2 separate regions of the Homo sapiens genome follow, and region 2 is linked to region 1. The links come from fine-mapping of genetic effects on gene expression. A gene starts in region 1. The other region holds a variant in brackets. All regions are shown on one strand. Distances are between the middles of the regions. Region 1 holds the start of SCD (stearoyl-CoA desaturase). Region 2 overlaps OLMALINC (oligodendrocyte maturation-associated long intergenic non-coding RNA).

What was found. PIP is the estimated chance that this variant, and not a neighbour inherited with it, causes the effect.
Region 2: its variant is the best candidate, but not a certain one, in a credible set for the expression of SCD in whole blood (TOPMed, PIP 0.90).

The regions. Positions count from the first base shown.
Region 1 is chr10:100,340,749-100,351,193 of GRCh38, reverse strand. It overlaps SCD (stearoyl-CoA desaturase), which reads right to left and starts at 3,961. Exons shown (of 6, transcript NM_005063.5): 1 at 3,663-3,961; 2 at 2,848-3,130. The coding sequence starts at 3,689. RefSeq lists enhancers at 3,597-3,836, 4,217-4,286, 3,935-4,526, 8,468-8,762 and silencers at 4,067-4,116, 4,317-4,696.
Region 2 is chr10:100,387,013-100,397,710 of GRCh38, reverse strand. OLMALINC (oligodendrocyte maturation-associated long intergenic non-coding RNA) reads right to left here. Exons shown (of 3, transcript NR_026762.1): 3 at 9,357-9,674. Among named protein-coding and RNA genes, the nearest start is that of OLMALINC, 19 kb to the right of the region's middle. The variant C/T (reference allele first, on the strand shown) is at 5,285.

The sequences.
Region 1 (10,445 bases):
CTCTGTTCAGTAGCTCTAGCAGGCAGAAGCTGTGGCCTTGATAGAAACTCTTAACAATGTTTCATTCCTAGGGAAACAGCTAGAAACAATAGATCCTCAGTGGCCACAGAACTTAGTTGCAGTTGGAGACACCACACATTGTAACAAATTGTCCTGTGTTCTTTTGCAGCCATTGATAGCTGTTTCCTAAACAACCTCCTTTTCCCCCCAACCCTACCTCCTTTCTTCTCTTCTATTCCTCCTATAAGATCTCCAGGAGAGCCACAGAGCCAGTCAGCCCCAACAAGAGCTCTCTCCACATTCCCTCAGAGTGGGGACTGAGGCCCCAGGTGATCTGCCCTCAAGCCAAGTGGTGACTGACATCTCCCCAGATACAGTATCTACCTGCATCTTACTCGGGAAACCATCAGTTGAGCCAGAGCTCTCTCTAATGAGCAAGGGAGCTTCTAGGGTTGTTATTTGCTGCAAGACCCTAGGGCAGTGTTGACTCAGAACGTATATAAGATCCTATATTAACAGGGAAATTGGGGAAAGAACTCAGGCACTCTGGTGCCTTTTCTAGAAACACCTCTAAGCCTATCAAATAGAAGGGCTTAAATCAGTTGGAGATTTATTCCTTCTCTCCTCCCCAGGGGAGGAAAATGTCCAGATTGATGGTTAAGCAACATCTCATTGCTCTGGCCTTAAGAAAGAGACTTGAATGGTTTTGCCTCTGGCTCTCAGTGTTGCCAGAGGCATTCTCCTAAGGGCTTCTTTGGGAGACTCCAAAATGAAAGAGATTTAAGGCTCTCAAAAGTGCTCAGTCATAAGAAATGCTGGAATCACGACCAGTTGCTAATTTAACATTGTCCATAGGGATTAAAACAAGAAAGGTGAAGCTCCTAAATTCTGAAGGTGGGAAGAGAAGATGTCCAAGTTGAGACCTCTGACCCTCCTCCCCTCACCCTCCTTGTTTCTCAAGACAGAGGAGTTCTGATATCCCCACATCGACATGGTCATTCTTTCAGCTAAGCCATCCACCAAAGGGCCCAGTAAAATAAGTTACCATCTAGTCTCTGTGAGCCACATTTATCTGCCCAAGGGCACAGCACACACCCATGGGCAGGTCACCAAAAAAATGTAGCAGGCACAGCCTTCACTTTGGGATGGAATTCTGCTCCTTGCAGTAGCAACTGAGGATAACCAAGCAGAGGCAATCGGGTCAAACTCTGGGCTTCAGGAAACCTACAGGGGGTGCTGAGGCTGGAAGGAGCTTGCAGGAGAGAAAACTACTTGTGAAGACTATCCTCTTGGGGAGAAAGGGTGGAGAGAGGCATCCACAGACTGCCTGGGGAATGCTATCCCTGCTCCTCATCCCTCAGCTGCAACTGAAGTTCTGCTGGATCCTCAGAGGGGCTAGACAACAGATGTCGCCCTCCCCTCACAAATACAAGAGCTCTTCCTGGTATGCAGATGAACTGATCTGCACCTGGCCTGTTCTGTCTCTGCGGCTGTGACACATATGTAACCCAAGGAATGCTACCTTCCCCATCCTAAAAAAGTACTGTTGCCCACAGGTGGTACCTAGAAAAACTGAGATCCTGACAAAGGGGCTCTTCTCAGTTGCATTTCACTGTAGCACCTGGAGGATTTCTGGAAACAAAAGCTCAATGAACCAGATCTCACCATCTTCAGAAGACCTAAGAGGTCCTGAGGGAAACAGCTAAAACTTGGCCTACCAGCCCTTCTGCATAACTACCCTTCAAGAGCGAGCTGTCAGAAAGTTTCCCACACCAGAAGTCCTGGCTCACCACCCCTTAGAGAGTAGCAGTGCAGGGCCCCTGGATCTGCAGAGCTCCCTGCTTTCCCTTCCCAACTTAGGCTCATAGTGACAGAGGTGAAAAAGCCTGCAAAGCGCATGTGTGTATCCAGGGGGCAGGGCCATGCCATCAGGCCACACCAACAGGTCCCTGAAAGAGCTGAGCTAAGGGCAGGTCGGGGACAAACTGGGAACTGTCTCCCTCATTACAGCAGCCTCAAGACCGGGCTCTCTTTTCTGGCCTGGCCTCGATGTCCCTGGCAAGGAGGGATGGGTAGGACTGGTGTTGGAAGGTGCAGAATTCTTGGCACTTCATGGCATCAGTAGGGGGGCCTGAAGCAGGCTGGACGGGGGATGGAACATGAAACATATCTTCAGCCTGATTTCATTCTAAGAGCATTTTGTTGACTGGTATGTGCAGCACCCTGGAATGTAGAGTAACAGAGCAACACACACCTGTGTGACTTGGGTTGCACGGGAGCTTCATCTTCCTCTGTAACGAAGAAGCCTGGTCTGGCCAAGGGGTCAGGTCAAAATAGTTTTGTGGATAACAACCTCTCTTTTCCTCTCTTTCCAATGAGCTCTCTCCTCCCTTTCCAATAAACTCTCTCCCTGAGTAGTTTCCCTTGTGCTAGCCTATGATTGCTCAACACAAACCCTAGAAAGCCAATGGTTTAGTACCATGTTCCCATGCCTCCCAGGTAGAGGGGTTTGATTCTTTTGTGGCTGGCAGGGGTGGGACAGGCAGCCAAGCAAATGACTCAAACAGAAAAGCTCTTTCAGGGAAAGCTGACTCTCCAGCACAGCACACTTCAAAGCCCACAAGCACAAGGTTCCAAAGCTCTCAACCCCCAGCATTGACAGTCCTGCATCTCAGTACCCCCAGGTTCTTCCCAGCCCACTAGGCCTGAAGCAACCAAAGAGAAATGCCTGAGAAAAACCCCAACCGGGAGGCTGGGAGGGGCTGGTGTCCTCTGTAAGATCCTACCTTATTAAAAGAGCAGTGAGTACCTGGAGGACTAGGTCAGGAGGACAGGGAGGCTGCTTACCCCAAAGCCAGGTGTAGAACTTGCAGGTAGGAATCAAAGTGATCCCATACAGGGCTCCCAAGTGTAGCAGAGACATAAGGATGATGTTTCTCCAGACATATTCAACCTTGGGGCTTGGGCCTTCCTTATCCTTGTAGGTGGGGTCATATATATCATCTTTTATATCAGGGCGAATGTCGTCTTCCAAGTAGAGGGGCATCGTCTCCAACTTATCTCCTCCATTCTGCAGGACCCTGGAGGGAGGCGCTGTAATGGTGGTGGTGGTGGTATAGGAGCTAGAGATCTGGAAGGGGGAGGAAGAGGAGAGTCAGGAGAAGAGACACGTGGAGGCAGCTGGGGCCACTCCGCTCTCTAATCACGCTGGGGGAAGGGTGGACAGTACGGACCCTTCCGCAGCGCCGTAGTTCACTGAGGGTAGGGTGTATCCGAGACGCAACGGAGAAAAGTTCCCTGAAACTGTACAGATACATTAGGGGCGGAGGGCGAGGGGGACGAGGGGCGCGAAACCTATCGGGAGGCGGCAGTAGGAAGGAGAAGTAAAGCACTCACATCCCCACGAAGACAAAGGAAAACCCGCATAATTCATAAAAGCACCAGCACGACCGGATTTTTCTTTAAAGCTTAAGAAACTAAAGTTGGAGACTCAAGTCCCCAAATTACAATCCACATTCCCAACTCACGGAAGGCAGCACAACTCGAAAAAGATGACCAAGTCCTCCGCGGAGCTCTCCCCTCTCTTCTGCCACCAACCCGTCCCCTGGAAGCCCAGCCCGCGCCTGCGACCCGGCGGTACGGGGCCAGGCTGGGAAACTCACATCGTCCTGCAGCAAGTGGGCCGGCATCTTGGCTCTCGGATGCCGGGATCACTTTCCAGGGGGCTGAGGCTCCGGAGCGGAGTTCGGGGTCGCCGGAGGACTGCGGTTTCGAAGCCCGCCGGTACGCGCTGAGCCGCGGCGCCTTGCACGCTAGCTGGTTGTCGGCGCTAGCCGCGGTGCGTGGAGGTCCCCGAGCCGGGAATTTAAAGGCTAGAGCTGGCAACGGGTGACCGTGTCCGGTATTTCCTCAGCCCCCTTTTATCCGCTGCCAAGCAGGGGCAAAGTGCGAGGAGTTGACTGGCGCGGGCGGTCCCGCGTGGAGGTAAGGGCGGGAGGGGGAGGAGACAGAGGCCGAGGCTCGCGGCGACCGCAGCAGGGCGCCGGGGATGCTGCCGACACCGACACCACACCACCCGGCCTCTGCCCCTGCCCCTGCCTCTGGGGAAATGCTAATGAGGCTTCTGTAAACTCCGGCTCGTCATTGGCCGAAGGGAATTTGGTGCCACCTCGTCCTGCCGTTGCCATTGGCTCGGCGCAATCTGCTGTTCCCTCTGCCGCCAGCTCCTCGCTCCCCCTCCCCTCTGTTTCTCCTTCTCAGCTTCTCTTCCACCCGCCGCTGGGCCTCTGCCCGGCATCCCGCGTCGGGAGCTTTCTCTCTGGAAGGGGCTGGGGACCCGGTTTGGGGCTGGGGCGCGGAGCCTAGCCCAGGACCGGCCCTCGGGCACACGGAGAACGGGTGGGTGGGCACTGGGGAAGTTTCTCAGGAAACAGTGGTGAACCCTCGGGGGGCGCCCACCACTAACATCTCCGTCCCGTCTTCCGTCCCCCCAGGCGCGTGGCAGGGAGACGTGGCAGCCACCCCAGGATCTGGAGCTTGGGGGACGCGGGAAGCCCCGCCTCCCTCCCGGGCGAGCGCGGGGGACTCGGTACGCCTGCGAACAATGGCTCTGCCCCGCCCACCAGCCACGCGCTGCTCACCCGGGACCGCACCGGACTCCGGCCGCACACACAGGCTGGCTGGTGTGTGTGTGCCTGCGCGCACGCATCCTGTTCAGGACCCGGGCGGGCAGTCCCATCCCCAAGCCCGCGCCTCCAGGATGCGTGCGGGATGTTTTGGAGATTCTTCAGACTGGCAGGTTGTAATTTTGGAATCTTCTTTGTGGAAACCGTCAGGAAACACTGACATGTGTTTTCACCCAGCAGCAGGCGAAAGGGCTTGGATGTGGAATAAGAATAGCTGGCAGGTATTGAATTATTACTGCAAGCCAATTCACAAGAATCGTTTTCTGTAAGCCTCTCTGTGACCCTGGGAGGTGGGTACCCCATTATTCCATTTTAAAAGTGAGGAAAGAGATATGGAGAGATGGAATAACTTGCCCATGGTCACAGCAACCAGTAAGTGATGGAGCTGGCAGTTGAGCCCAGAAACACCATATGAGAGCCCAAGCTCTTAATCCCTGCTCAGGACCATATTGCCCTCGGTCCCTGAGATGCTCTGACCCTACTGATCTGTCCCTGTGCCCCCATCTTTTCCGTGTCTGTAGGAGCCTTACCATGAGAGCTCAGAACCAGGCAGGCTATGCATTCACCCGGTGTCCTTCCATGCCCATGTCTTTCCCAAATACTGCCCTAGGATCCTTCCCCTGGGAAGAGGAGAAAATACGGAGTGCTGCGCCAATGATTCACTTCCCAGGAAGACAAGCACCTGGGATTTCCTGGGAGGTAGACTAAGCAGCTCCTTTGTTGGCCACTGGTCTCAGGGTCAGGCCAACTCTCTGGCCAGTGACCAGGAGACTGCATTCCAGTCCTGGCTCCCTGTCCGGTGTGAAAGTTCTGAACAAGACTGGATGATTTCAGATGTGGACAGCTCATCCAGTCATGCCTCAGAAGTACTTGGCATGTGGCACAGAAATCTGTACGTGGTCTGACCCCCTTCAGGTTCTCTCTGCAATGTCTAATTTGCTTAATTCTTTTGTTTTTTGTTTTTTTGAGAGGAAGTCTCGCTCTCTCCCCCAGGCTGGAGTGCAGTGGTGTGATCTCGCTTCACTGCAACCTCTGCCTCCCGGGTTCAAGAAATTCTCCTGCCTCACCCTCCCAAGTAGCTGGGATTACAGGCATGCGCCACCACACTTAGCTAATTTTTTGTATTTTTAGTAGAGACGGGGTTTCACCATGTTGGCCAGGCTGGTTTTGAACTCCTGACCTCAGGTGATCCACATGCCTTGGCCTCCCAAAGTGCTGGGATTACAGGCATGAGCCACCACGCCTGGCCCGGAGAATATTTTCATTCTATTTCTCTTTCGAGCAGAGATCACCTCTACTCCTGAGGCCCTGGTCACACTGTGGTTCTCAAGTGACAGTGGTCAAACCAACACACTGATTTGGATTCTAAGATTTATTTTTTTTGGTCTGGGGGCCCTACCTCAGCAAAAGGAACAATAGTTACAACAATTATGACAGCAAAAAGTTTGAGACCAGCTTGGCCAACAAAGTGAAATCCCATCTCTACTAAAAATACAAAAATCAGCTGGGCATGGTGGGAAGTGCCTGTAGTCCCAGCTACTTGGGAGGCTGAAGCAGGAGAATTGCTTGAACCCGGGAGGCGAAAGTTGCAGTGAGCTGAGATCACACCACTGCCCTCCAGCCAGGGTGAAAGAGCAAGACTCTTTCTCAAAAAAAAAAAAAAAATTGTGATTTTTTATTATTTTGTTTACAGCCAAGCTCCTTAATTTTGGTATTCAAAGTGCTTCATGATTTTACTCTGAACGCCCTATTCCAGCCTTAATTCTCACTTCTCACTTAGTATAACTTGTATCTTCATCAAACTGCACATTTGTCAACAGAATATAAAATAAAACTCCGAAAAACCCCTGCACTCTTGCTGATTTCTAAACATGCTTCATTTTCCCAAGTTTTTCTTCCCCTGAACTCTGCCTGTCAAAATATTACCCGGGATCCAGCAATTCCACTCCTAGATATAAACCCAACAGAAATGAAAACATATGCCCACACAAATGTATACATGAATATTCACTGGAGTATTATTCATAATGGTCAAAAAGTGGAAACAACCTAAATGTCTGTCAACTGACTAATGAACAGATAAGATGAGCACTTTGGGAAGTGGAGGTGGGGGGATCATGGCAACATAGTGAGACCTTGTCTCAACAATAAAAATACAGCCTGAGCAACATAGCAAGACCTCCTCTATACCAAAAATCATTTTTTAAAACTTAGCTGGGCCTGGTGGCACAAGCCTGTAGTCCCAGCTACTCAGGATGCTGAGGCCAGCGGATTGCTTGAGCCCAGGAGGGGAGGCTGCAGTGAGCTATTATTACGCCACTGTACTCCAGCCTGGGCAACAGAGTGATACCCTGTTTCAAGAAAAAAAATATCAGCCAGGCATGGTGACACGTGTTTGTAGTCCCAGCTACTTGGGAGGCTGAGGCAGGAGGATCACTTGAGCCCAGGAAGTCAAGGCTGCTCAGCTGTCACCATGCCACTGCCCTCCAGCCTGGGTAACAAAGTGAGACCCTATCTCAAAACAACAACAACAAAAAAGAAAGAAAATGAATACATAAAATGAAAATTAAAAAAAAAAATTAGCCAGGTATGGCTGTGTGTGCCTGTAGTCCTAGCTACTCTGGAGGCTGAGGTAGTAGGATCACTTGAGCCCAGGAGTTTGAGGTTACAGTGAGCTATGATTGTGCCACTGCACTCCAGCCTGGGTGACAGAGTGAGAACCTGTCTCTAATAATATGATATGGGATACCCACACAGTGGAATACCATTTGAGAATAAAAAAGAATGAAGTACTGCTAAGTACTGTAACATAATGAGCCTTAAAAATAGAATGCTAAGTGAAAGCAGCCAGTCACAAAGTCTCACATGTTGTTTGCTTCCATTTATATGAAATGTCCAGAATTGGCAAATTTATAGAGACAGAAAGTAGATTGGTGGTTGCCCAGGGCTTGGAAGGAGGATGGAGGATGTTGGGGGGTGATGGCTAAGGAATGCAGGGTTTATTTTTGGAGTAATAAAACTGTTCTAAAATGGATTGTGATGGATGCACAACCTGTGAATATACTAAAAGCCATTAAATTGTATGATTTAAATGGATGAATTCTATGGTATATAAATTATATCTCAATAAGAAAAGTATAAAAAAAAAAAAAAACTAAAGACTGGGCATGGTGGCTCACGCTTGTAATGCTAGCACTTTTGGGAGGCCGAGGCGGGTAGATCGCCTGCGGTCAGGAGTTCCAGATCAGCCTGGGCAACATGGTGAAACCCCGTCTCTACTAAAAATACAAAAAATTAGCCCAGGGTGGTGGCGGGCACCTATAATCCTAGCTGCTTGGGAGGCTGAGGCAGGCTGAGGCAGGACAATCGCTTGAACCTGGGGGGTGGGGGTGGAGTCTTGCTCTGTTGCCCAAGCTGGAGTGCAGTGGCACGATCTCAGCTCACTGCAACCTCCACCTCTGGGGTTCAAGCAATTCTCCTACCTCAAGCTCCCAAGGAGCTGGGATTACAGGCGTGCACCACCACACCCGGCTAATTTTTGTATTTTTAGTAGAGATGAGATTTTGCCATGTTGGCCAGGCTGGTCTCAAACTCCTGACCTCAAGTGATCCACCTGCCTTGTCCTCCGAAAGTGCTGTGATTACAGGCGTCAGCCACTGTATCTTTATAACTCTAGATGATTGAGCTATAGGCTCCAGAGGAAAGGTACACTCCAGACCAGCTCCAGAGAACGAGAGAAGACTTCCCGGAGGAGACGGTGCTAAATCCGAAGGGACCATTAAGGGTGAGTGTGGAGAAGGGCAGTTGGCAAGTTCAGAGACCTAGAGGAGGAAAAGACTGACCTGATATACTATGAACGAGGACCCTTGAATATGGCTCCTCCTGGGCCCCAGGCTGGATAGATGGTGTAGCACGTCTTTCCCCGGTAGAGAAGAGGCCAGTGCACTAGCCCCACACCTCCCTCTGTTGGCAGACATCTGTCTCTCCACACTATCCACAGAGCCATGATCTTCCTCTCACTCCAGCCCTTTCTGTGTGTGCTCACACACGGGAATGTCTGCACACACAGGTATGCATACTGGCGGACGGGCCTCCACCAACTTATTGTTACCTATCCCTGGGGCCCTGGGGTACGTCCTCAGATCAGATAGTGCGTGTGACTGGAAGCAGTTTATGTCTCAGGGCAGAATGTGTGAGATGGGTACTGACAGTCCCAGCAGATGAGGCCTGGGGACAAATGTCTTAGGACCAGGACCAGGGCCAGAGATTTCTGCAGTGGTCTGACCTTACAAAGATGCCTTTTCCCAGGCCACAGACTACTCCCTCCCTCCTCTGGAGGCCCATAGGGGATCTTTCCCCAGCCTGGAAGGCTACCCCATTCTGAGCAAGCCATCTAGGATGAACACATGGAGAGGAAAAGCAAACACAGGCCTAGGGCCTCCAACAACAAATAAACAAGCTGAAGGGAAAGTCTCTCTTGCCCTGACTCAGCTTCTGAGCCAAAGTAAAGAGAGAAGAGCAGCTTGCCCCCGCGTTTTTTCTTTCTTTCTTTCTTTTTTTTCTTTTTGAGACGGAGTCTTGCTCTGTTGTCAGGTTGGAGTGCAGTGGTACAGTCTTGGCTCACTGCAACTTCTGCCTCCCAGAATCAAGCAATTCTCCTGCCTCAGCCTCCCAAGTAGCTGGGATTACAGGTGCATGCCACCCCTCCTGGCTAACTTTTGTATTTTTAGTAGAGATGGGGTTTCACCATACTGGCCAGGCCAGTCTCGAACTCCTGACCTCGTGATCTACCCGCCTCAGCCCCCCAAAGTGTTGGGATTACAGGCATGAGCCACCGTGCCCGGCTCCTGTGTTGCCTTCCTGGTCGTAGAGAGGTAAATCCCCATTTGCTTCCTGCAGTTGCTAAGAGTGCTCCCAGGAAGGTCACACTCTCTTCCAGAGTTCTGAACCCATGCCTCTCTCCCTGCTGTAGGTGAAAGGAACAGGCAGGCCCTGGCCATTCCTGGCCCTTCACCCCTTTTGCTTCTCTCCTCCCAACTGCCCCTCCCAAGCTGCTGCTTCCCCTACAAGGGAACTGTTTCCTGAGTCCTTCTAGCCTCGTGCCCCAGCCAGCCATCTCTCTCCTGGCCTTCCCTTTGCCTGACAGTAACCTCTCCCACAGCTGATGTCACCCTGGCTTTGCACTGACACAGCAGCTGAGCTGGGCACAGCAGGGCTGCGAGGTCCAGAGGGCAGCTGGCTATGTCTGAGGCCAAGCTTCCCTCAGTGCTCGCCCAGGGCTTTTCCTCAGCCAAGAGCCTGCTTCTCTCCCATTCTGTGCCTCTAAGCCAACGTAGCCACATGGGGATAGAGTGTTGACTGAGCCTCCCCTGTGCCCAGCGGAAAGTCAATTCTCTGCTGTGTGGGGGAGAATGGAGCCAAAGTTCTGCTCCCACCCCTGGGGAGCTCACAGATTTCTAAGAGAAACAGGACAAAGCACAATAGCAAACTGGGCAGGCTAGCATCTGATGAAGGCAGAGTGTAAACATACTATATTAAACAGGGTCGGAGTTCAGGGAAGAGAGAGGGGCGCCCTTCCTAAGAGGTGCCCCTAGAATCGGGTAGGGGAAGAGAATGGGCTGGTGACAGAGTCATTTAGTGTTTTTTTAAAATTTATTTTTATTTATTTAAGCATCTATTTATGTGCACTGTGCTAGGTGCTTTGATAATCTACTAATATTTACCCACATATTTACCTGTATTTTGCAAGGCTCAGAAAAG
Region 2 (10,698 bases), 46 kb before region 1:
AGTGAGCCCTGATGGTGCCACTGCACTCCAGCCTGGATAACAGAGTGAGACCCTGTCTCAGAAACAAACAAACAAACAAAAGTTATATATTTTTTCCTTCTTCTTTAAAAAAAAAAAAATTTTTTTTTTTGAGACAGAGTCCTGCTCTATTGTCCAGGCTGGAATGCAATGGCACAATCTCGGCTCACTGCAACCTCCATCTCTCGGGGTCAAGCAATTCTCCTGCCTCAGCCTCCCAGGTAGCTGGGATTACAGGTGCCTGCCAACACGTCCAGCTAATTTTTTGTATTTTCTTTTAGTAGAAACGGGGTTTCACCATGTTGGCCAGGCTGGCCTTGAACTCCTGACCTCATGATCCGCCTGCCTCGGCCTCTCAAAGCACTGGGATTACAGGGGTGAGCCACGGCGCCCGGCCAGAAATATATGTATTTTAAAGAAAACTGAAAATAGAAACAAACAAACAAAAAATAATAGAAATATATATATTTACAGTTGCAGTTCCCTCAAATCTTTGCTCAAATTTTGCTTCTTCAATGATACTTACTTTGATCCTTCTATTATTATTATTATTATTATTTTTGAGACTCAGTTTCACTCTGTCACCCAGGCTGGAGTGCTGTGGCATGATCTCGGCTCACTGCAACCTCCACCTCCCAGGTTCCAGTGCTTCTCCTGCCTCAGCCTCCCGAGCAGCTGGGATTACAGGCACCTGCCACCATACCCAGCTAATTTTTGTATTACTAGTAGATACGGGTTTCGCCATGTTGGCCAGGCTGGTCTCGAACTGACCACAAATGATCTGCCTGCCTCAGCCTCCCAAAGTGCTGGGATTATAGACATGAGCCACTGCGCCCAGCCTGATCATTCTGTTAAATACTGCAGCCTACCACCTGCCCATTACTCCTGATTCAGCATTTCCTGCTGTACCATTTCTCTCTCTCTTTCTGTTTTTTTATAATAGAGATGGAGTCTTGCTATGTTACTCAGGCTGGTCCCTAACTCCTGGCCTCAAGCAGTCCTTCAACATCAGCCTCCCAAAGTACTGAAATTACAGGCATGAGCCACAGCACTTGGCCCTACTTTTTTTCATAGTGCTTTTAAACCTTATCTGCTGGGCGCAGTGGTTCACGCCTGTAATCCCAGCACTTTGGGAGGCTGAGACAGGTGGATCACCTGAGGTCAGGAGTTTGAAACCAGCTTGGCCAACATGATGAGACCCTGTCTCAACTAAAAATACAAAAATTAGCTGGGTGTGGTGACGGCACCTGTAATCCCAGCTACTCAGGAGGCTAAGGCAGGAGAATTGCTTGAACCCAGAAGGCAGAGGTTGCAGTGAGCTGAGGTCGCGCCACTGCTCTCCAGCCTGGGTAACTGAGCGAGACTCCGTCTCAGAAATAAATAAATAAATAAACCTTATCTATCTAATACTTACTATATAATCTACATATTGGGCCGTGCGCAGTGGCTCACGCCTTAATTCCAGCACTTTAGGAGGCTGAGGCAGGTGGATCACTTGAGGCCAGGAGTTCAAGGCCAGCCTGAGCAACATGGCAAAACCCCATCTCTATTAAAACTACAAAAATTAGCTGGGTGTGGTGGTGCATGCCTGCAGTCCCAGCTACTCAGGAGGCTGAGGCACAAGAATCACTTGAATCCCTTGAACCCGGGAGGCAGAGGTTGCAGTGAACCAAGATTGTACCACTGTACTCCACCCTGGGCGACAGAGAAAGACTGTTTCAAAAAAAATTTTTTTTTAATCTACATACTTAGATTTAATTTTTATAATCTGTTCCTCTGTTGTGCGTACACACACTAGAATGTAAACCCCACAAGTGTAAGGATATTCTATTCTGTTCCCTAATGTATCCAAATATTTGAATAGTACCTACCCTGATGAGGCACCCAGTAAATATGTGCAGGATAAATAGGTTCTGAGAGAGAGATTCAGGATAAAGAAGACATTTTGAACACATGCATTTGCTCCCTCCCCAAACTATAGTAAAATAACAGTAAAGGGTTTTTGAGAGGTATAATCCCACAAGGACAAAAGAATGGGGAAGAGACCACAATAAAATTTTGGAAGGTGGAAAACAGATTATGAGTAATAGCTGTCTTAGTAGAACCTGGAAAGCTGAAGCTTCAGCAGGCAGCGGGGGTAGCCAAAAGCAAAGTAGTTTACACCAAAGAACCCACAAAGGTTCAAGATTTGGTGGCCCCAGCTACCTTTGGAAGGGGAGGAGAAAGGGGAAGGTATGGCTAAGAATAGAATAATTGTTGAAGAAATTGTTAGTTCTCCTGACTCCAGGTAAAACACTGGAGGTCGATTCATCAGAAAGAGTGAAATCAAGGATCTCTTGACTGGGGAATACCAGAATCAGTTAAAGGCTGAGTTATAGCATCAGTCTGGGTCCATTCAGGAGACAGAAACTACACGGTATTATAGAAAAAAAGAGCAAAGGCTAAAGACTAATATTTGTATACCGAATGTTGGACTTCTTAGTCTTCCAAGAACTTCTCCTCTTTCAGCTTCTAGAATGCTGGTAACCAGGCCTGAACTCTCAGGCTGGAGATTGGAGGAAGCTTCTCTGCAGATTCTGACAACCTAAAAGAAAAAAAGCTATGATATAGGCAGGATGCAGTGGCTCACGCCTACAATCCTAGGGCACTTGGGGAGGCCAAAGCAGGCAGATCACTTGAGGCCAGGAGTTCAAGACAAGCCTGGGCAACATGGTGAAACCCTACCTCTATTAAAAATACAAAAACTAGGCTGGGCGCAGTGGCTCACACCTGTAATCCCAGCACTTTGGGAGGCCAAGGTGGGCGGATCACGAGGTCAAGAGATGGAGACCATCCTGGCCAACATGGTGAAACCCTGTCTCTAAAAATACAAAAATTAGCTGGGCGTGGTGGTGTGCACTTGTAGTCCCAGCTATTCGAGAGGCTGAGGTAGGAGAATCGCTTGAACCTGGGAGCAGAGGTTGCAGTGAGCCGAGATTGCACCACTGCACTCCAGCCTGGCAACAGTGCGAGACTCCATCTCAAAACAAACAAACAAACAAACAAAACTAGCCAGCATGGTGACACAGACCTGTAACCCCAGCTACTTGGGAGGCTGAGGCACAAGAATCTCTTGAACCCGGGAGGTGGAGGTTGCAGTGAGCTGTGATCACGCCACTACACTCCAGCCTGGGGCCTGGGCAACAGAGCGAGATCCTGTCTCAAAACAAAAACAAAACAAATAAACAAAAAAACTGTGATACTAGTATTGGGAATTACTCTAAGAAACCATCCAGTCAGAAAGACAGAGATGTGCTCATACTGAATGTGGCCTACCACATGTGCAGAGCCTCCAGCTGGCTTTTTGGTGCCGCATTGTTATACATAAACAGATAGCCAAGGATCATTCATTATCTGCAGAAACAAATCTGCCAAAACAGAAAACAGGACAGAAAAAACTTGGAGGGCAAGAGACTTTGTAGGGAAAGAAAAATATTCCCCAACTAATCACTAATATTCTTAAAGGAATAAGAAAATATTGCAGGCTGGGTGTTTTGGCTCACACCTATAATCTCAGCACCTTGGGAGGCTGAGGCTAGATAGAGGATTGCTTGAAGCTAGGAATTCAAGATCAGCCTGGGCAATAAAGCAAGACCCTGCCTCTAAAAAACAAAACAAAACAAAACACAAAACCCAGAAAATATTGCATCCATGGAAGCAGACAAGATACAGTAAAAAGGAAACATTCTAGCAGAATCTTTGAAAATTAAAGTATGATAACAGGTCTTAAAAACTCAATAGGGCTGGGTGTGGTGGCTCACGCCTGTAATCCCAGCACTTTGGGAGGCCGAGGCAGGTGGATCATCTGAGGTCAGGAGTTCAAGACCAGCCTGGCCAACATGGTGAAACCCGTCTCTACTAAAAATACAAAACTTAGCCGGGCGAGGTGGCGGGCATCTATAATCCCAGCTACTCGGGAGGCTAACACAGGAGAATCACTTGAACCTGGGAGGCGGAGGTTGCAGTGAGCCGAGATCGTGCCACTGCACTCCAGCCTGGGCGACAAGAGCGAAACTCCATCTCAAAAAAAAACCAAAAAACAAAACAAAAAAAACCCAACTCAATAGAAGGTTTGTAAGATGAAGTTCAGGGAATCTAGAAAGCCAAGCGAAAGTAAAAGGCATGGAAAATAATATAGGAACTTTTAAAAATAGAGAATCAATTCTGAAGACTCAAGAAAGAACAAAGAAAATGGAAGAGGAAGATGAAATCATCAATGAATCAAAAAACATCCTCAGAAATGAAGGAAAAGCATTTCTAGATTGAAATGGACTAGGAAACGTCTTTGATAATGGATGGAAATGGATCCATACCAAAGCACATCATCATGAAATTTTGGGAAACCAAGAACAAAGAGAATATCTTTAAAATATGCCTTTTTCACAAGACTAATAAAGAATGAGTTTCTCAGCTGGGCGCGGGGACCCACACCTCTAATCCCAGCAATTTGGGAGGCCAGGGCAGACAGATCACTTCAGGCCAGGAGCTTGAGACCAGCCTGGCCAACACTGTGAAACCCCGTCTCTACTAAAAATGCAAAAATTAGCCCAGCGTAGTAGTGCATGCCTATAGTTCCAGCTACAGGTTGAGGCACGAGAATCACTTGAACCTGGGAGGCAGAGGTTACAGTGAGCCGAGATCACGCCAGCACAGCACACTCCGGCCTGGGCAACATAGTGAGACTCTGTCCCAAAAAAAAAAAAAAAAAAAATAGAATGGGTTTATCCAAAGCAAGGGAGTAAATCAAGAAAGAGGAACACAAAGGATCCAGGAACAGGGGATCTAACACAGGAGAGAACAAGGCTGAAGAGAATTCCCAGGACAAAAATTATGTATGCAACAGGTTGAGAGAGTAACCAGTCCAGATTGGAGCATGTGAGGGGGCTCCAGGAGAGATTTCTTCAAGAAAATGAAATTGAAAAAATATCTGATGTGACCAAGTGTATTGAGAAGAGATGTAGACAACTGGGGCGGAGGTTGAGTTAAATTAATATATTAAGTACATAGAAAAATACAACTATTAGGTCCAAAAAGCACAAAAAGTTATGCAAGAGAGAAACATTACTCAGCTTACTTGGGTACATTACTTCGCTTATTTGTGAACAATATTTGCATAGTCACAGCAATATAAACACTGACTTTTTTTTTTTTTTTTTCCTGGAGACAGAGTCTTGCTCTGACTCCCAGGCCAGAGTGCAGTGGCGTGATCTCAGCTCACTGCAACCTC[C/T]GCTCCCCGGGTTCAAGCAATTCTCTGCCTCAGCCTCCCTAGTAGCTGGGATTACAGGCACCGCCACCACGCCCGGCTAATTTTTGTATTTTTAGTACAAAAATTTAGTAATTTTGTATTTTTAGCTCAAGCGAGGCTGGTCTTGAGCTCCTGACCACCGTGATCCACCTGCCTCAGCCTCCCAAAGTGCTGGGATTACAGGTGTGAGCCACCACACCCGGCCAACACTATTTAATTAACCAAATTTTTTACAACACAAGTGTATTGAGAGGACAGAGAAAGTGAAGCATGCAGATACTATGTGAATGAGTGAGGATGTGGTAGGGATGGCACTGGTGATGGTGAAAAAGATAAAATTCTCATCTTCTCTGGTGAGAAGTTCATAAATAATGTAAACATGTTTAAGTTAATACGTAGTCATATAAGCCTTTAGAGATAAGTCATTTAGAGATACAGAGGTAAATGCCAGAAGGTTCCATTAAGAGAAGTTGAAAGTGGTTACCTTTGAGGAGCTGAAAATGGTGAGGAGAGGAGGCCAGGGCACTGCTATTTCAAAACAAGCCGTATGGCAGGGGTTGGGGAGTGGGGGGGATGGGGAAAAGCCTTATAAGGCCATTTAACTCTTTAAATCATGTACAAGTATAACTTAGATATAAAATAAGAACAAAATACAAAGAGACTATAGGAGACTTTTCCAAGTGAACAGAGCCCATGGGAGGCCCCCACCCCCAATCTATTTCTCTGACATTGTCTTATGTGATATCCCACCAATCTTCCCCCAGCCCCGCACTCAAACAAGGGTGCTGACAAGAGCAGAAGGGAGACATTGGTTGAGTCTGGATCTGCCCTGTCAGGCTCTTGTTAGAAGCCCGAGTCAGCAGCCCATTAACACTAGATTACTTCTCTCTAGGCAAGTTAAAGATTTTTCTACTGAAATTACAAATACCAAAACCAGACTGACTCAATCCTAATGTGTTTCTTCTTCCTTACATTCCACTGAACATCTTGATTCCAAAACCCATGATTCTAAACACACCTTCTGCTCCTTTCTTGAGGTTTTCCTCCGTTCATTGCTAGAATGGCCTTGGGGTCCATCTGCCTTTGGTAGCACTCACACTTGCCAAGTTTTTTAACACTTGGGTAACAAACTATGTTGTTACCCTTTCACCTCACTCTCTTGCCTTCACTGAGGATAAAAGGCAGAGGTACTATTAGCTGTGCTTTTTTTTTTTTTGGTGAAGAATATTACCTTTACCTAACAAATTCTACAATATTTTTCCTTTTCCTTCACTGGCTATTCTACTGGCTCTGATTCTAAGGCTGGTCCATGACATAAATAAGGAACTGTTTGGGGAACAAAGATGGAATGACCTTGGTAAACCAGGCGTGCTCATCCACTCACTGCATAGTACTCAAGGGAGAAGAATGTCTCATTTCAGATTAGTTCAAAACAAAACGTTTCACTTTGTCCTTGTCTCTGACCTAGACAACCCTCTTATCTGTGATAAAGAAGGCATGCTTATGCTATTTTCCACTAAATAAAGCTAGAAGAGATATTTAATATCTTGGAAGACTGAATTGGGATTCATAAAGCTCTCAATAGGTTCCAAAGTTAGAATTAACAAATAAATGAAATTTACCAGGGAAATATATATATATATATATATATATATATATATAATATATATATTTATTGAGATGGAGTCTTGCTCTGTCGCCCAGGCTGGAGTGCAGTGGCGCAATCTCAGCTCACTGCAACCTCCGCCTCCTGGGTTCAAGCCATTCTCCTATCTCAGCCTCCCGAGTAGCTGGGACTACAGGCGCATGCCACCCTGCCCGGCTAATTTTTTGTATTTTTAGTAGAGACAGGGTTTCACTGTGTTAGCCAGGATGGTCTCGATCTCCTGACCTCATGATCTACCTGCCTTGGCCTCCCAAAGGGCTGCAATCACAGGCGTGATGAACTGCACCTGGCCAACCAGGGATACATTTAAAGTCCCATGCTTATGTTCAAAATATTAATTTCACCAACATAGGATAAGGAAGACTTAGCTTAACAGTTCAAGTGAAAAAGGCTATGAGTCTTGGCTGACTACAAACTTAACAAGTTGTTTTTTTATTTTTATTTTTATTTTTATTAGTTTTTTAGGCTTAAGGAGTTGAGAGCAGGAAGTGGCTAGGGAGTGACTACCAAAATGTAAATACTTCTCTTTTTACTTCTGACAACACAGGCAAGACTGAGTGCATCTATCAGTTCACAAATAAATATTTACTGAGGATCTGCTATGTGTCTAGTATGAGGAAGGGGCTGTGGCAGTAGAACAAAAGGAAAAACCCAAGGATCTTTGAACAGGTTGGACAGACAACATATACATAAAAATAATAGCAGTGATGATCACTTACATTTCAATAGTGCTTTATTATGTCTTTCATTTATACGACCTCTTTTTACTTCATAGCTGCCCTATGAGGTAGTAAGTCAAATACAGTTATCATTTTATTTATTTATTTTTTAATTTCTGAGACAGAGTCTCACTCCGTCGCCCAGGCTGGAGTGCAGTGGCGCAATCTTGGCTCACTGCAACCTCTGCCTCCTGGGTTCAAGTGATTCTCCTGCCTCAGCCTCCCAAGTAACTGGGATTACAGGTGCGTGCCACCCTACCTGCCTAATTTCCATATTTTTAGTAGAGATGGGGTCTCACTGTGTTGGCCAGGCTGGTTGCGAACTCCTGGCATCAAATGATCTGCCTGCCTCAGCCTCCCAAAGTGCTGGGATTACAGGCATGAGCCACCAAGCCCGGCCAGTTATCATTTTAAAGATGAGAAAACTGAGGCTGAGAGAAGTTAAAGCAGTGATTCTCAAACGTTTAGCTCTCAACCCCTTTATATCCTTAAAATTATTTAGGTACCTCACACTACATACAAAAATGAAATCAAAAGGGATCGAAGACCTAAATGTAAGAGCTGTAATTATAAAACTCTTAAAAGAAAACTAAGTGTAAATCTTTGTGACCTTGAAACAATGGCTTCTTTAATGTGACACCAAAAGCACAAGAAACAAAATAAAAAATGGATAACTGGACTGCATCAAAATTAAAAAGTTTAATGCTTCAAAAGATACTAGCAGCGAGGTGTGGTGGCTCACGCCTGTAATCCCAGCACTTTGGGAGGCTGAGGTGGGAAGATCGCTTGAGTCCAGGAGTTTGAGACCAGCCTGGGCAACATAGTGTGATCTCATATCTACAAAAAAAAATTTTAAAAATTAGCCAGGCTTGGTGGCACACACCTGTGATCCCAGCTACTTGGGAGGCTGAGGCGGGAGGATTGCTGGGGCCTGGGAAGTTGAGGCTTCAGTGATTTGTGTTCAGGCCACTCCATTCAAGCCTGAGCAACAGAAAGAGATGTCTCCAAAAAAAAAAAAAAACAGATAAAATAACAATAAAAACCTATTACTATTATAACAGTTTTTTAAAGGAAAATAACTATTTTCCAAAGCAAACAAATATTTAGTGAGATGAGAGTCATTCTACATTTTTACTAATCTCATTAATGTCTGACTTAATAGAAGACAGCTGGATTCTCATATCTATTGCCATATGTTGTTTGGTTGAAATAGATGAAGAAAATCTAATCTCATTCAAATATGTAGTTGGAAAAGGGAGGAGGATTTTTTTTTTTCTTTTTGAGATAGAGTCTCACTCTGTCACCCAGGCTGGAGTGCAGTGGGCCAATCTCGGCTTCCTGCAACCTCTGCCTCCCAGGCTCAAGCGATCTTCCTGCTTCAGCCTCACAAGTAGCTAGGAATACATGCACATGCCACCACGCCCAACTAATTTTTGTATTTTGGTAAAGATGAAGTTTCACCATGTTGTCCAGGCTGGTCTTGAATTCCTGGACTCAAGTGATCCATCCACTTTGGCCTCCCAAAGTGCTGGGATTATACATGTGAGCCACCACAGGGAGAAGGATTTCAATAGATAATTGTGGATATTCTTCTTTGATACTACACTAAAACTCAACAAGTGTAGTGTCACGCACGTCCTTGTGAAGAGACCACCAAACAGGCTTTGTGTGAGCAACAGGGCTGTTTATTTCACCTGGGTGCAGGCGGGCTGAGTCCAAAAAGAGAGTCAGCAAAGGGTGGTAGGATTATCATTAGTTCTTATAGGTTTGGGATAGGTGTACAAAGTACATTCTCAAGGGCGGGGGAAGAATATATGGTATCAGTTAGCGTGGGGCAGGAACAAATCACAATGGTGGAATGTCATCAGTTAAGGCTACTTTCACTTCTTTTGTGGATCTTCAGTTGCTTCAGGTCATCTGGATGTACACGTGCAGGTCACAGGGGATTTGATGGCTTAGCTTGGACTCAGAGGCCTGACACTCCTATCTTCTTATATTAGTATGAAAAACAAAACAAAATAGTGGTGAAGTGTTGAGGCAGCGAAAATTTTTGGGGGTGGTATGGAGAGATAATGGGCGATGTTTCTCGGGGCTGCTTTGAGTGGGATTGGGGTGGCATGGGAACCTAGAGTAGGAGAGATTAAACTGAAGAAAGATTTGGGTATAAGGGGTGATATTGTGGGCTTGTTAGAAGGAGTATTTGTCGTATAGAATGATTGTTGATGGCCTGGATGCAGTTTTGTATGAATTGAGAAACTAAACAGAAGGAAGACACAAGGTCCGAATAAGAGAAAGAGAAAAATAGGTATTAAAGGACTAAGAATTGGAAGGACCCAGGACATCCAATTAGGGAGTGCCCAAGGGGGTTCAGCATAATTATTTGCTTGGTTGGCGAATTTTTGGGGTCTATCCTTGAGTTTTTTTATGTTGTCATACACCAGGCCAGATTGATTTAGGTAAAAACAACACTCTTCGTTTAAAAATATACAGGGTCCTCTTTTTTTAGCAGTGAGTAAGTCGAGGCCTTGGCGATTTTGGAGGAAAGAGAAATGCAAAGCCAGCAGTTGTTTGTTAAAGAAGGATTAGAGGGCCGGGCATAGTGGCTCACGCCTGTAATCCCAGCACTTTGGGAGGCTGAGGTGGGCGGATCGTGAGGTCAGGAGATGGAGACCATCCTGGCTAACATGGTGAAACCCCATCTCTACTAAAAATACAAAAAATTAGCCAGGCATGGTGGCAGGCACCTCTAGTCCCAGCTACTTGGGAGGCTGAGGCAGGAGAATGGTGTGAACCCAGGAGGCGGAGCTTGCAGTGAGCCAAGATCACACCACTGCACTCCAGCCTGGGGGACAGAGCAAGACTCCATCTCAAAAAAAAAAGAAGGATTATAAACGGGGCTAGGAGAGAGTGAGATTGATAGTGTGGTGGAGATAGCTGGGGAGAGGTAGAGGGTGGCATAAGATCGGGAACCAGAATAAGAATGAGTATAAAAGTAAAGAATAGGACTTCAT